Regions from separate parts of the Homo sapiens genome. Here region 1 is linked to region 2. The links come from fine-mapping of genetic effects on gene expression. A gene starts in region 2. The other region holds a variant in brackets. All regions are shown on one strand. Distances are between the middles of the regions. Region 1 has its middle 21 kb from the start of CALB1. Region 2 holds the start of LINC00534 (long intergenic non-protein coding RNA 534).

Region 1 (8,347 bases), 120 kb after region 2:
AGTCTAACAAATGTTTGTTCAAAATAACAATAGCAACAATGTGTCTAATTATGTACACTTTTTATATATATACTTATGCATGCTAATATATGTGAACTGAATGACTACAATGAATCTGGGAATCAAATGGAGGAATTAGGATTATTTTGTTACTATAAAGTACTCACACTATCTATAAAGCACTATGGTGTTATTTGAAAGTGGATGTGGATTAGTTGTCAATGTATATTGAAACTGGATGTGGATTTGTTGTCAATGTATATGGAAAACTCTAGGGCAACCACTAAAAACAAAGTTTAAAAAGAAGTATTAACTAATATGCTAAGGAAGGAGAGAAAATGAAGTCATATAAAATTCTCAATTAAAACTATAGAAGGCAGAAAAAGAATGGAAGGCAAAGAAGGAACAAATAACAAGGGCAACAAATAGAAAACAATAACAGATATGTAGATATTAATCCAACTATATCAATAATCACTTTAACATCAATGGTTTAAGAGACAGATGTTGTCAGAGTGGACAAAAAAAAAAAAGGCCCAACTCTATGTTGTCTGGAAGAAACCCACTTTGAATATAAAGACACATATAGATTAAAAGTAAGAGGATGAAGAAAAATATACATGTAACACTAATCAAAAGAAATCAGGAGTGGCTGTATTAATTTAAGACAGAGCAAACTTCAAAGCAAGGACAATTATCATGGATAAAGAGCAGTACACAATGATCAAGGGGTCATTCTGCAAGAAAATATAACAATCTTTAATAGGTATGTGCCTAACAACACAGCATCAAACCACATGAGGCAAAAAATGATGAAAATGCAAGGAAAGGAAAAATAAATGAATCCACTATTATAGTTGGAAACTTCAACATTCCTCTATTTGAAGTGGACAGATCCAGCAGACAAAAAAATTATTAAGGACATAGTAGAACTCAACACCATCATCAATTAACTGATGTAATCAACATTTATAGACGACTTCATTTAACAATAGCAAAATACACATTCCTTTGAAGCTCACATGAAACATACACAAATATAAAGCACATTCTGCACCAGGAAACATATCTTAACAAATGTAAAGGAACAGAAATCATGAAATGTCTGCTCTCAGACCACGGTAAAATTAAATTAGAAATCAATAACAGAAAGATAACAGGAAAATAAAAAATGTGTGGAAATTAACATACTCCTCTTTTATTTATTTATTTATTATTTATTTACTTTTGAGACAGGATCTCACTCAGTGGCCCAGGCTGGAGTGCAGTGGTGCAATCATGGCTCATTGCAGCCTTGACCTTCTGGGCTCAGGCAATTCTCTCACCTCAGCCTCCCAAGTAGTTGGAACTACTGGTGCACACCACCATGCCCAGCCAATTTTTTTGTGTTTTTTGTACAGACAGGGTTTTACCATGTTGCCTAGGCTGGTCCTGAACTCCTGAGTTCAAGCAATCCTTCTGCCTTGGCCTACCAAATTGCTGGGATTACAGGTGTGTGCTACTATGCCTGAGCTACCATAGTTTTTAATAACACATAGGTCACAGATGAAATCTCAAGAAAAATCTAAAAACATTTGGAACTAAATAAAAATGAAAACACAACAAAATTTTTAAGATGCAATGAAAGTAGTGCATAGAGGGAAGTTTATAGCATTCAATGCATATAGTAAAAAGCAAGAAAAATAGAAAATAAATAATCTAAGTTTTCACCCTATGAAATTAGGAAAAGAAGAGCAAATTAGATCTAAAGTGGGAGAAAATAAACAATAAGAATGAGAGCAGAAATCAATGAACTGAAAAGAGGAAATCCATAAAGAAGCTCAACAAAACCAAAAGCTAGTTCTTTGAAAAGATCAATAAGATCAATATGACTCTTGCCAGGTTAACTAAGAAACAAAAAGAGAGAACACAAATTACTAATATCAGAAATAAAAGAGGGGACATGACAACAGATCCTCTGGACATTAAAAGGATAATAAGGGAATTCTTTTTCTTTTTTTTTTTTCTGAGTCTCGCTCTGTCACCCAGGCTGGAGTGCAGTGGCGTGATCTTGGCTCACTGTAACCTCCACCTCTCGAGTTCACGCCAGTCTCCTGCCTCAGCCTCCCGAGTAGCTGGGACTACAGGCGCCCGCCACCATGCCTGGCTAATTTTTTGTATTTTTAGTGGAGACAGGGTTTCACCATGTTGGCCAGGATGGTCTCAATCTCCTGACCTCGTGATCCGCCCACCTCAGCTTCCCAAAGTGCTGGGATTACAGGCGTGAGCCAACGCGCCTGGCAATAATAAGGGAATTCTACGAACAACTGTATGCTCATAAATTTGTAATCTAGATTGAGCCAATGAACCAATTCCTTAAAAGACACAATTTGACAAAACTCACTCAAGAAAAAGACGATCTGAATAGACTTTTATTTATTAAAGAAATTGAACCAATAATTAATAACCTTCCAGAGCAAAAAGACCAAGCCCTGATTAGTTCACTGGTGAATTCTGTGGAATATTAAGGAAAAAAATTGTATGAATTCTCTACAATCTCTTTCAGAGGATTGAAGCAAAAATAATATTTCTTAACTTGTTCTATGAGACCAGCATTACCCTAACACCAAAACCAGACAACAACATTATAAAAGAAAACCACAGGCCAATATATCTGGTGAACATGGATGCAAAAATCCTCAATAAAATACTAACAAACTGAATTTAAGAACACATCAAAAAGATTATACTCCACAACCAAGTGGGATTTATCCCTAAGGTGCAAGTTTGGTTGAACATACACAAATTAATCAAAGTGATACATTGCATTAACATAATGAAACATAAAAAACCCCTTGATTATCTTTATAGGTATAGAAAGCATTTGACAAAGTTGAACACCCATATGTAACAAAAACTCTAAATAAAATATATATGGAAGGAAACTTCTGCAACACAATAAAGGCTATTTATGAAAAGGCCAGAGATGTCATAATCAGTGAGGAAAAACTTAAAAGCTTTTCCTCCAAGATCTGGTAAAAGGCAAGGATGCCTACTATTACCACTTCTAGTCAACATAGTAATGGATTGCAAGAGCAATCAGTGTAGAAAGATAATCCAAATCAGAAAGGAAGAAGTAAAATTACCCATTTGCAAATGATCTTATAC[G/A]TAGAAAATGCTAAAGACTCTACAAAAAAAATAAAAATCTATAGAAACTAATAAACAAATTCAGTAAAGTGGCAAAATGCAAAATCAATATACAAAAATTAGTTGCTTTTCTTTACACTAATAATGATCTAATCAAAAAAGAAATCCAGAAAACAATCCCACTTAAAATACATCAAAAATAAAATGTTTCAAGATAAATTAAATCAAAGAAGTGAAATATCTGTACACTGAAAACTATAAAACCTTGATAAAAGAAATTAAGGAAGGCACAAGTAAATGGAAATATATCCCAGGTTTATGGATTAGAAGAATGAATCTTGTTAAAATGTCCATATAACCCAAAGCAATATACAAATAAAACATAATCTCTATCAAAATTCCAATGGTATTTTTTCACAAAAATAGAAAAAAATTCTAAAATTCATATGAACTGTAAAATACCTTTTTTAGTCAAAATAATCTTGAGAAAGAACTAAGTTAGAATCATTACACTTTCTCATTTCAAATTATATAACAAAGCTTTAAGTAAGCAAAACAATATAGAAACAGACACTTAGATCAATGAAACAGAAAAGAGAGCTAAAAAAACCCAACCATATGGGTTGATGTATCAGCAAATCACCAAGGCACACGTTTACCAAGGTAACACAAACCTGCACATCCTGCACATCTACCCCAGAACTTAAAAGTTGAAGGATAAATATTTTTTTTAATGGGCAAAAATCTGAATGGACATTTCTCTAAAGAAGGCCAAAGGGTATATAAAAAAGTCATCAACATCACTAATCATCAGGGAAATGCAAATCAAAACCACAATGAGATATCATCTCTTACCTATTAGAATGGCAATTATCAAAAAAAAAAAAAAAAAAGAATGGCGATTATCAAAAAGTCAAATGATAAGTATTGGTAAGGATGTGAACAAAGGCACACCTTTGTAAACTGGATGGTGAGAATGTGAATTGGCACAGACATTATGGAAAACAGTATGGAATTTTTTCAAAAAACTAAAAATAGAACTACTCCCATGATCCAGCAATCCCTGTTCTGGGTATATATCCAAAGAAATTGAAACTGGGATCTGAAAGAGACATCTGCACTCCCATGTTCATTGCAGCATTATTCACAGTAGCCAAGGTATGGAAACAACCTAAGTGTCCTTCAATGGATGAATGAATAAAGAAAAAGTGACTATTTTTCAGACATAAAAAAGAATGAAATCCCATCATGTGCAGCAACGTGGATGAAACTGGAAGACATTATGCTAAGTGAAATAAATCAGGCACAGAGAGACAAAAAACAAAACAAAACATATATGGTTAGCTAATTTTCAACAAGGGCACCACACATACACGATGGGGAAAGGATAATCTTTCAAAGAATGATGTTGGCTACAGTGGATAGCCACATGCAAAAGAATGAATTTGAACCTTTATTTTATACCATACACAAAAAATTAACTCAAAATGAATTTAAAACTTAAACATAAGACCGAAAACTGTAAGATTTCCAGAAGAAAGCATAGGAATAAAGCTTCCAGACATTGGTCCAGTGATGATTTTTTAGATATCACAAAAAACCCTCAGGCCACAGAAGCAAAAATAAATAAGTGGGGCTATGTCAAACTAAAAATCTTCTGCTCATCAAAGAAAAAAATCGACAAAATGAAAAGGCAACCTACATATTTGAAGAAAATATTTACAAACCATATAACCAGTAAAAGAATAATATCCAGGATAATATAAGGACCTCATACAACTCAACAAAAAATAAAAATAAATAATCCAATTAAAAAATAGACAAAGAATCTGAATAGAGAGAAGAAATACAAATGGCCCAGAGGTGTATGAGAAGATTCCCATCACCACTAATCATGAAGAAAATGCAAATCAAAACCACACTGAGATACCACCTCACACCTATTAGAATGAATATTATCAAACAGGCAAGAGATAAGTGTTAGAAAGGGTGTAAATATGTAACCAAAAGAAATGAAATTGTCATTCTGTAGAGATATTTGCACTTGCATGTTTATTGGAATATTATTCACAATAGCCAGGATATGGAAACAACCTAAATGTCCATTGATGGGTGAATGGATAAATTGCTGAATGTAATAAAATATAATATAATGTATACACACACAATGGAATATTATTCAAATTAAAAAAAAAGAAGATCCTGCCCTTTGCAACAACATGAGTGAAACTGAAAGACATTATGTTAAGTGACATAAGCCAGACACAGAAAGAAAACTACTGCATGATGTCACTTATATGTGGAAACTAAAAATGCTGAATACATAGAGTAGAGTATAATGGTGGTTATAAGTGGAAGGGGATAGGGAGATGTTGGTCAAAGGGTCCAAAGTTACAGTTATGTTGGATAAATAAGTCTAGAAATCTAATGTAAACTATGATTACTGTAATTAATAAATACTGTATTGTGTAATAAAATTTACCAAAAGAGTAAATTTCAGGTGTTCTTACCACACATATACACACAACAAGGTAATTATGTGAGAAAAATGATGTAATTTGTTTCACTGTAGTAATCATTTTAGTATATATAGGCATATCTTGTTTTATTGTATTTATTGCATGCCTCAGATCCTGCACTTCTTACTAATTAAACGTTTGTGACAACTTTGCTCCGAGCAAGTCTATTGGCACCATTTTTTCTAACAGCATGTGCTAGCTTTGTGTCTCTGTGCCACATTTTGATAACTCTTGCTATGTTTCAAACTTTATTATTACTATGTCTGTTATGGTGATCCATGATCTTTACTGTTACTATCATAATTGTTTGGGGGCACCATAAACCACACCACATGCAATGGTAAACTTCACTCTTGATCTTAGCCAAAAGGCCGAGAAGCAATTGAGATGACAAACTTAATCAATAAATGTGTGACTTCTGACTGCTCTACCAACCAGCTATTTCTCCAACTCTCTACCTCTCCTCATACTTTCATATTCACTGAGACACAAGAATACCGAGATCAGGCCAATTAAAATACCCCTATAATGGCCTCTAAGTGTTCAAGTGGAAGAAAAAGTTGCACATCTCTTACTTTAAAACATAAGCTAAAAATGGGTAAGCCTAGTGAGGAAGGCACTTCAAAAGCTGAGATAGGATGAAAGCCAGGCCTCTTGTGCCAGGTAGTCAAGTAGTGAATGCAAAGGAAAAGGCTTTGAAGAAAACTGAAAGTGGTACTCCCACGAAAAACACAAACGATGAGAAATCTAAATAGCCTTGTTTCTGGTACGGGAAAAATTTTGGTGGTCAGGATAAAAAGATCAAACTAGCCACAACATTTCCTCAAGCCAAGGCCTAATCCAGAGCAAAGCCTTCACTCTCTTCATTTCTACGAATTCTGATAGAGGTGAGGAAGCTGCAGAAGAAATGACTGAGGATAACAGAGGTTGGTTCATAAGGTTTAAGGAAAGAAGCTATCATCATAACATAAAAGTATAAGGTGAAGAAGGAAGTGCTGATATAGAAGCTGTAGAATGTTATCCAAAAGATCTGACTAAGATAATTGATAAAGGTGGCTACACTAAGCATACACTAAACACAGAATTTTTTTTTTTTTTTGAGACAGAGTCTTGCTCTGTCGCCCAGGCTGTAGTGCAGTGGCACGATCTTGGCTCACTGCAACCTCCACCTCCCTGGTTCAAGCAATTCCCCTGCCTCAGCCTCCCAAGTAGCTGGGATTACAGGTGTACACCACCAAACCTGGCTAACTTTTTTGTATTTTTAGTAGAGATGGGGTTCACCATGTTGGCCAGACTGGTCACGAACTCCTGACCTCAGGCAATCCGCCCACCTCAGCCTCCCAAAGTGCTGGGATTATAGGCGTAAGCCACCGTACCCAGCCAACAACAGATTTTTTTAATGTAGACAAAATGGCCTAGTATTGGGAGAAAATTCCATCTAGGACTTTCATAGCTAGAGAGAAGTCAATGACTGGCTTCAAATCTTTAAAGAACAGTCTGAATCTCTTGTTTAGGGCTAATGCATCTGGTGGCTCTAAATTGAAGTCTACATCTTTTATGATTTCAAAAATTCTAGAGCCCTTAAGAATTGCCCTAAGTCTACTCTGCCTATGCTCAATAAATGGAAAACAAAGCCGGATGACAGCACATCTGTTTACAGCATGGTTTACTGGATATTTTAAGCCCACTGTTGAGACCTACTGCTCTGAAAAAAAAAAATGATTCCTTTCAAAATTCCTGCTCATTGGCAATGCATCTGGGCTCTCAAGAGCTCTAACGGAGATGTACATGGAGATTAATTTTGTTTTCATGTCTGCTAACACAACAATTCTGTAGCCCATGGATGAAGGAGTAATTTCTAATTTCAAGTCTTATTATTTAAGAAATACATTTCATGATGCTATAGCTACCAAAGATAATAATTCCTCTGATGAATCTGGACAAAGTAAACTGAAACTTTCTGGAAAGAATTCACCATTCTAAATGCCATTAAAAACATTTGTGATTCATGGTAGAAGGTCAAAATATCCACATTAACAGGGATTTGAAAGAAGTTGATTCCAACCTCTGTGGATGACTTTGATTCAAGACTAGTGCAGGAAGTAACTGCAGACATAATGACAATAACGAGAGAACTAGAATTAGAAATGGAGCCTGGCCAGATGCAGTGGCTCACACCTGTAATCCCAGCACTTTGGGAGGCCTAGGCAAGAGGACTGCTTGAGGGCAAGAGTTCAAGACCATCTTGAGCAACATAGTGAGACCCTATCTCTACAAAAATCAAAAAATGAGGCATGCATAATGGCACATGCCTATGGTGCCAGCTGCTCAGGAGGCTGAGGCAGAAGGATTGTTTGAGCCCAGGAGGCTGAGGCTGCAGTGAGCTGTGTTCATGTAACTGCACTCCAGTCTGGGTGACAGAGTAAGATCTTGTCTCAGAAAAAAAAAAAAAAAAAATGTGACTGAATTGCTACAATCTCATGATTAAACTATAATAGATGTGGAGTTGCTTCTTATGGGTGAGCAAAGAAAGTAGTTTCTTGAGATCAGTCTACTCCTGGTAGCGATGCTGTGAACACTGTTGAAATGACAACAAAGAATTTAGAAGATTACATCAACTTAGTTGATAAAGCAGTGACAGGGTGTCAGAGGATTGCCTCCAATTTTGATAGAAGTTCTACTGTGCATAAGATGCTATCAGA
Region 2 (8,347 bases):
CAGTAATATATGTGGAACACCAGCAAGGTAGATAGCATCACCATTACCCCTTTGCAGCTGAGGAAACCAAGAAAGCATGACTATACAACTCACCCAAGGTCAGCCCATTCATCTGAGTCTGTTTCCCCAGGTAGCAGCACTGCACTTCCTGGAAGTAGCATTACACACAGTATCACACTCTGTTACTGGGCTCACTGGATTTTCCATGACCTATGCTAATGCCAAGCTGATACTCTGAAGAATATTTTCTTGTTTATAGGTGAGAAACTTATAGGAGTGGAGTAGGGAGGCAGAGACAGAAGTGTTGAGATAAGATTTATCTCTAAAATCTGAGCTTATATATTCCACATAAAGAAATGTCATTTCTAAGGCTACTTGTTTTGCTAATATTTAATTGGTTTGTGGAATGTGCCAAAGTGCCATACTCCCTTTTTTCCTCAAGTGAAGTAATTACCTTGGGTTCTCATTTTGAAAACGTAATGTTTCTTCCATAAGCTCATAAGCAAGTTCTCATTTTTCTCCTTCTACCTTGGAGCCATTAATGTTCCAAAAAGAAATGACTTTGTTCAAAATAGCCAGAAACAAGTGCTCCTAATATTTTTTCATTCAAATTAATTTTAAATTACAAAAGTTAAAGAGCTTGTAGCAGTCTGGGTCAGCTTTCAAGAAAAAGTCATCAGGTTTTGTACAGTATGTCTAGTTCTTTAGTTCAATTCAGCTTCATCCTGCCTCACAAAAATAATAACTTTGGATAATGCTGGAATAACAATGTCAAGCTTTCACAATGGGTCTTGATGGTAAACTCAGGTTTCTTGTGAGTGTGACATCATAACAGCATCTACACTTACGGGCAATTTTAAAACCAAGAGACCAAAATCACAGGCATGAATCATAGCATCCTCCCTTATTTCTAAGATGTATACATGAAGATGAGATAAATAGCATTTTGTAAAAGGATAATTGGCTGGTAGTAATTCTCCTAAGTGAAGGAAAGAATGAGTCTTTAGATACCTAGTCTGTTACATTGTCCCACCCCTTTACTAATTAAATGCTAACCTCATGATTCGAATGGGAGAAAACCTGAAGCTGACTGAAGACTTTCTCATCTATCCTTTAGCACCACAGTATCAAAGGTGTTTCATATTTATTCTGTGAGCACATTCCCTGTTATAGCCTTTTAATTACCTATCACTCTAAAGATTGTAAATTAACAGGAGAAATGTTGGCTTCAAAGGTGATATTTAAAACCAATTGCCTCAGTGAAGATCCTGTGTAGGTAGTGGTTATTCAACTACAAAGGAGGTCACCAAAAAGCTCTATTTTATCTCTAACTCAAAGGACCATCTTTAGTTTATAGTTGCTAACATCTAAAAATCACTTCTTTAACATACAAAAATTCCTGAAACTCTCTCCTTTCTTGTTATGTTGGTTAATTCAGTAAACCAGTGGAAGTAATAAACATAGATGCTTTTCTTCTTTCCATTTTGCCAATAGTGAGATTTAAGACATAGCAAAGTGTCTGCTTTTAGACTGACTTGCTTCAAGGTCTCCAGATGGCTGCCACAGTTCTAGATATCCCCATGCAGATGACCATGCCCCAAAGAAAACTTTAAAATCACTTTATTTTTTGCAATTATCTTCATGTATCATTTTCTAGTTTCACCCTAAAATGTTCTCCTATCTCGCTTTGCGTGGGTAGAGCTGACTTTCACTAGGGCATGTCTGCATTGTCCTGAGCAGCAGTGGAGAGTGATTGGGCGAGAACACAAAGTTCTGCCTCTCCCTAGAGACTAGCTTCTCAGATTCTATAGAATGCCTGCCTGGGGCTCATGTGAGCAACAGGGTCCATGTTCTGGTTTAACCTTTGCTGCTTGACTTCTTTTGATATAATGTTTATTTCCAAAGTGCAGGTGCCTCCACTGTCATCAGTTCACCAACAAGAGCTGACCTATAGATGACCAGAAGGGCTCGCTTCAGCAAAAGCAAAAAAGAAACCCTTTTTTTTTTTTTTTTTGGCCAAATTTAAGGCTAGCCATCTATGTTACAAATCATGCTGCAAAAAGTAAAAAATTTAAAGCTCAGATTGGATCAACATTAAGGAGAGGTAAAGATGGGTGGGTTTCCTGGTCTTTTCAAAATAAATGTGACTTTTAAAAGGATGAAAAAAATGTTTTATGCTCCAGTATATTTGACTCACTGACCTTGACCTTAAGAAATCTGATAACAATCCTAATGCCCTAGAACAATGGAACTTTAAAATTAAATGGAAAAGCATGCACAGCAGCAATGGCAGCCCATAAAGCCCCCAGCATAAATGCTGCATAACTGGAGTAATGGGGAGTTTGAGTGAAAGGCAGTGGAAAGTTACAAGAAATTCAGAAATTATTAAAAGAGAGAGCCTTTATTCTAGGTCTTTTTATCAGTATCTGTTTACAAAAAGGCAAAACTATCCACAGTTATTTATCTATTTCCCCAATTTATGAAGCTTTGACACATGACAGTCACTTTACACCATGTAATCCTCATAAAGAGAGCATTGTTGTCCACTATCTAACATTTTTTTTCTTAATGGAGACTCTTGAGATGGTAAACAGCTTACTCAGATTATACAACAAATCCATTTTTACTTAACAGACAGAAACTCAGATCCAAAAGTATTCTCTTCCTCAGGTCTCTTAACTACCTCATTTGATGAGAATACACAAGTGATCACTCAGAAATTTAGTCAAGAATTTTAAGGTCACTTAATTATTTTAAGATTTGATTGAAAACTTGGCCTATTGCTTAAATCCTCTAGTGGACTTCCTCATTGCATCAGGTCAATTGAGTCAATCTTCAGATAGCTTCACACTTTTTTTTTTTTTTTTTGAGACGGAGTCTCGTTCTGTTGTCCAGGCTAGAGTGCCGTGGCATGATCTCGACTCACTGCAACCTTCGCCTCCTGGGTGCAAGCTATTCTCCTGCCTCAGCCTCCCAAGTAGCTGGGATTACAGGCACCCGCCACCACACCCAGCTAATTTTGTATTTTTAGTAGAGACAGGGTTTCACCATGTTGTCCAGGCTGGTCTCGAACTCCTGACCTCAGGTGATCCACCCGCCTCGGCCTCCCAAAGTGCTGGGATTACAGGCGTGAGCCACTGCAGCCAGCCACCTTCATTTTTCAAAATGATGAATGTGTTATAATAGAAACTTCTAGTCTTCTACGGTACCCACCATAGAGAAAGTTGCCTTATATAAATTTAAAACAAAAAAAGCATGTGTTACTGCAGCAAGATTTCCAATAGAGAGCGAAAACCTATTTGACATTAATCAATCACTTTTGAATCCTTGCCACAGCAAGTAAAATGTGAGGACAAAGGAACACAGACTGGGTCATGATTCATTAGTACTTAACTTAGATCAAGCTAAAGCAGACAAGAGGAGATAAATTTCTTATCAAACAGCTTTAGTGATGATGGAAGATTTAGACTCTATTTCAGCATTTTGCTTATTGAATTCCACATAGACAAATTTATCATTTTGAATCTCCCCAGTAAATTTTCTCTGCATTCAAATAAATGATAAGCTATGGGCGAAGAAATTCTCTCCTTTAATACTTTAATACCATATACAAATCTAGTCATCACATTAGTTGAATCCTAGAACCTCCTTCCTTTTGTGAATTAAAAACTTACAGCTCTTGGAAGACCAAGATATCAATACTGAGAATAATCAAAGGGTACATGTATAAGGATGGTGATGGGAGGTTAATCTCAACAGATACAGAAGTAAACAAAGCTTGGCTTAATAAAGCAAATGGTTATTTTAAGCAACATCAAATTTTTATAACGAGATCAGTAATGGAGAATATATAATGAAGCTTTTCAATAGAGTTCAAGGATTGAAACGAAGTGTGAAAAACACGACATTTTAGAAGCACACATCTATACAACACTGAAATTAAGATTAGGGATAGTAAGTGACATGGCAGGAATTTCTTTCCATTTTTTTTTAATTTCATAATTTTTTTTAATTTCACAGATTTTTTTGTTTAATTTCACAAGGATTAGTACATGAGCCATTATTTATCTGGCTTAGTAAAAAGTTTTCTGCCTATCTTAGCTAAGAGAAATGGAAGGCAACACTTTGATATGAGTGAATATAGCAATAATCAAGAAATTCCTATTCTATGAGATGTGGCAATGGTCGCAAATAAAATGTGACTAGTGTCCATGGGCAAGGTGAATAATTAATATATTCATTCACTGGGGACCTACATATAGTTCCCAATGAATGGGAACTTTTGGTATTAAAAAATTTGTATAAAGGTAATTTTTTGGTATAAAAGAAAATTATTAGCTTAAATTTCATCCTGTGCTCTCAGGAAAAAGAAAAATACTATTGGTCGTTTTTTAGAGAATGATACTAGGTATCAGCTAGCGTACTCAAGACCTGTGATATATACACATCATGTAAAATTTAAACACACCAACACTTACTAACATACAGCAATAGCACCAATATATTGAATAGACTTTAAACAGATTATTTTCATTAATTAAAGAAAATACCTGATATACCTCACACAGCTACCTGCAAAATGCTGCAAACACAGCAGAAGCTCAATAGAGATATTAATTAATCCAGTCAGCTAATGGTGATACCGTAACTACAAAAGCTGTATCCAAGATGATAGAGTTCTTAACTGGCCTCTCTGTCTTCAGTCTCACTGAAGTCCCACCCTCTAGACTGCAAAATAATCTTTCCAAAGATGAAATTTCTACTATGACACTCTATTTTTTAAATATTTAGTGGCCCGCAAAATAAGTTCCAACTTCCTTAGCATGTCTTCCTCACACGGCCCTTCATGATTTGGCTGTTATGTATCTAGACACCCTTAGATCCTGATACTTCCACACTTATTCCCTACACTCCCAGAATGCTAGACAACCAGCAATTCCTTGAGTATACCTTGTAGTCCCGTTTCATGCCTTGATCTCTATAGCAGCCATCATTGATACCCACCCATATCCGTTCAGCACTCACCATTTCTGTGAACCTCTAACTGCTGGCTTTCACCTGCGACTCTTTGCCTGAGGGCTTTCTCAGGTGGCCAGAGCTAATGGGGCCCACACCTGTGGAAAATCTAAAATAGAGAAGAATTAACATCCATAGGGAGCAGCTCTCAACCACAGAATGACTGGAACTGGTGAGCAGCTCCAAGTCATAGCCACACTGTTTCCCAGGGTGCTCCCAAAGAACTGAGAGACCCAGTTGCTCACAGAAGTAATCTGCCAGAAAAGACACTCTTTACAGTCATTCTTCCCTTCCTTATCTCACTTCCCACTCCCCTACTAGTGTTTCCTCCCAAATAAACTGCTGTACTCAACTCTTTGCCTCAGAGTGTGCTTCTGAGGAGAATCTTGTCCAAGATAGTCCCTTTACAAGTATCGTTCCCACTTCTGGAGAATATTTTTCCTTTCCTTCAAACCTACTTGGGAATTCTTCACCATCCTTTAAAGCAAACCTTCTTAAAATTTAATGTCATACAAATGACCAGAGATCTTATTAAAATAGAGATCCTGATTTGGTATGTCCTGAATGGGATCTGAGATTCTGAAGTTCTAACAGGCTTCTGGAAAAGGCGAATACCCCCAGTTTGAAAACCACACTTTGTGAGTAGCAAATATTTAAGACACAGTTCAAAAACCTATTTCTTTGGAAGTCTTCCCTAAAACTCCTTCATTCCTATCCTGATGATTAATTTTTCTTTTTCCCCTATGTTTATTACTGTGTGTGGTAATTCTTTGTTTACAGGTCTATCTCCAATGAGTTTGTTCCTTTAAGATGAGGATTGTCTTTTTCTTATCCATGTATCCACAATAACTAGCATATAGCCTGACATATTACCCATACCTAAGAAATGTTTGTGAACTGGTAAAATTAATGAACAAATTATAATTTTATGGCATACTTCACCAAAAATTTTATATGTACACATATTGTGTTCTGACACATTCAACTAAGTCAACTGTGTTATAAATATAAATTGTATAAATTCTTCAGATTTCTGGTCTATTTTTACATTAAATCATAGACTTCAGGACTTCTGAACAATGCAGATTATAGAATTTCTGCTGTAGAGATATTTAATAGGCTATGTCAACATCAGCTTAAAATGGTTTAGTTAACTGTTATCTAAAGGTCAGGAAAAGTATCAATCACTAGAATCCCTTCTTTGTATTCATATTTAAAATCTGTGGATGAATGTTGTGCAAGTTAGTCATTCATTGGGTTTAGGGAAGTGGAGAAGGTGGTGGCAGTGTGTGTGTGTGTGTGTGTGTGTGTAGGCACTTGCATGCATTTTGGGGGTGGGAGATATATTAGAGCAGAAATCACAAGAACATCCTAGGAGGAAGTACTTTATGGACTGCTCTCTTACCTGCCACAAATTGCTTGCAAATGCCATTGCCCTCAGAATCTCAGGATTGAACTTCTTGTTTATTTTAGTTGCTTCCTTCTTAAGAAAAATTCAATGTAAGGTGGTGAAACTAAATCTATCAAGGGAATAGCTATATGGTATCCTTAGATGGACAACTAATGGAAATAGCATCTGATCTTTCTACTTTAAGATGCAAGAACAGAAACTAGGGTGTTTTGAGCATATCAAGTTCTGAACTAGATAATAGCACTGATAATGGACTAAAGAAAAGTGATATGTGGAGCCCACAGTGTTGACTGGAAGTCAGCTCCTATCTCATTCCAACCTCATTCTCTTACCATTAGAAATCAACCCTGAGCATGTTAGAAAGATGTTCTCATGACAAGGAAAATGGCAACTGAAAGCCCTTGACATATTAAGATTTGACTAGATCAGAACTTGAATAACATTTTGTACTTTATTTGCATCTACCACATTGTATTTTAATTCTTACTGTCTAGGTCCATGTTTCCAATTAGGTTAGTCAAGTCCTTGAGAGCAGGAATCAATTTAATTCAGTTTTTTATTCCTGGAATATCGCTTGACCTATTGCAGATGTTCAGTTATCACTGTTGAGTTAATGAATCAATGAATGAATTGATCAATGAATAAATTATAGCCACATCATAATTGTTAAAAGAACACTAAACAGTGGATTAAAGCTTTGGGAGTCCAGAGAGCTAGGGAGGAGTCACAGTTTCTCAAAGATTTTACTAGTTCGAAAGGGTGTATTTAACATTAAAACAACAAAGAGATATACTTAGAACCCACTCTAAACAAAGACTAATAATAACAAGGACTGACGAGAATGTAAGAACTGGAACTCTCATGCATTGCTGGTGGGAATGTGAAATGCTACGTTTACTCAAAAATTATTATTTACTATATAACCCAGTAATTTCACTCTTAGATCTATACTCAAGAAAAATGAGAATCTGTGTCCAGACAAAGACTTGTGCATGAATGTTCGTAACAGCATCATTCATAATAGCCAAAATTTGGAGACTACTGAAATGTCTATCAACTTGTTAATGGAGAAGCAAAATATGGTATGTCCATATGAACGGATATATTCAACTATAAAAAGAACAGACTTACAGATAGATGCTACATTTATAAATTTTACCAAATGTAAATTTTTCCAACAGGACTGTTGCTACTCATTATCTCTTTTGTTATCCTGAGAATTTCCATAGAATGCTTTAACTATCCATTGAACACTTCCCACAAAATCTTGTTATTGCTCATAGTTCTAGTTTTTCCCTTTTAAAAAGGGGTATTTATATTTTTATGATTAATGTTAAAGTAAATTTACCAATACATGTTCTAAAACTGTAGTTCAACTCAGAAATTCTTAGACCCTCACCTTCATCCTGAGTTCACTGTCTTATTGCTAAAGCACAAACTTTAATAGTTCTTTTACTTCAGTTATGTGGACAATAAATTGTATTATTCTTTTTGTGTGCGAAAAATGCTTCTATTTTGCCATTACATTTGAATAACAGTGTTGGTGAGGATGTGGAGAAATTGGAACTTTTGTGCACTGTTGATGGGAAAGTAAAATGATATAGCCACTATGGAAAACAGTATGGCAGTTTCTCAGAAAATTAAAAATAAAATTACCATATGATCCAGCAATTCTGTTTCTGGGTGTATAACTAAAATAATTTAAAGTAGTGTCTAATAGAGATGTTTGTACAAATATGCTCATAGAAGCATTAATCACATTAGTCAAAAGGTAAAAATAACCCAAGTGCCCAATTGATGAGAAAATGGATAAACAAAAGGTAGTCTATACATCTACATATACAATGAAATATTATTCAGCCTTAAAAAAATGAAATTATAATGCATGCTACATACGTATAAACCTTGAGGAGACTGTGC

Evidence for each region. PIP is the estimated chance that this variant, and not a neighbour inherited with it, causes the effect.
Region 1: its variant is fine-mapped to the expression of LINC00534 in whole blood (TOPMed, PIP 0.90).

Annotation. Positions count from the first base shown.
Region 1 is chr8:90,100,087-90,108,433 of GRCh38, reverse strand. No RefSeq gene overlaps it. Among named protein-coding and RNA genes, the nearest start is that of CALB1, 21 kb to the right of the region's middle. The variant G/A (reference allele first, on the strand shown) is at 3,148.
Region 2 is chr8:90,218,425-90,226,771 of GRCh38, reverse strand. It overlaps LINC00534 (long intergenic non-protein coding RNA 534), which reads right to left and starts at 5,284. Exons shown (of 4, transcript NR_051989.1): 1 at 5,026-5,284.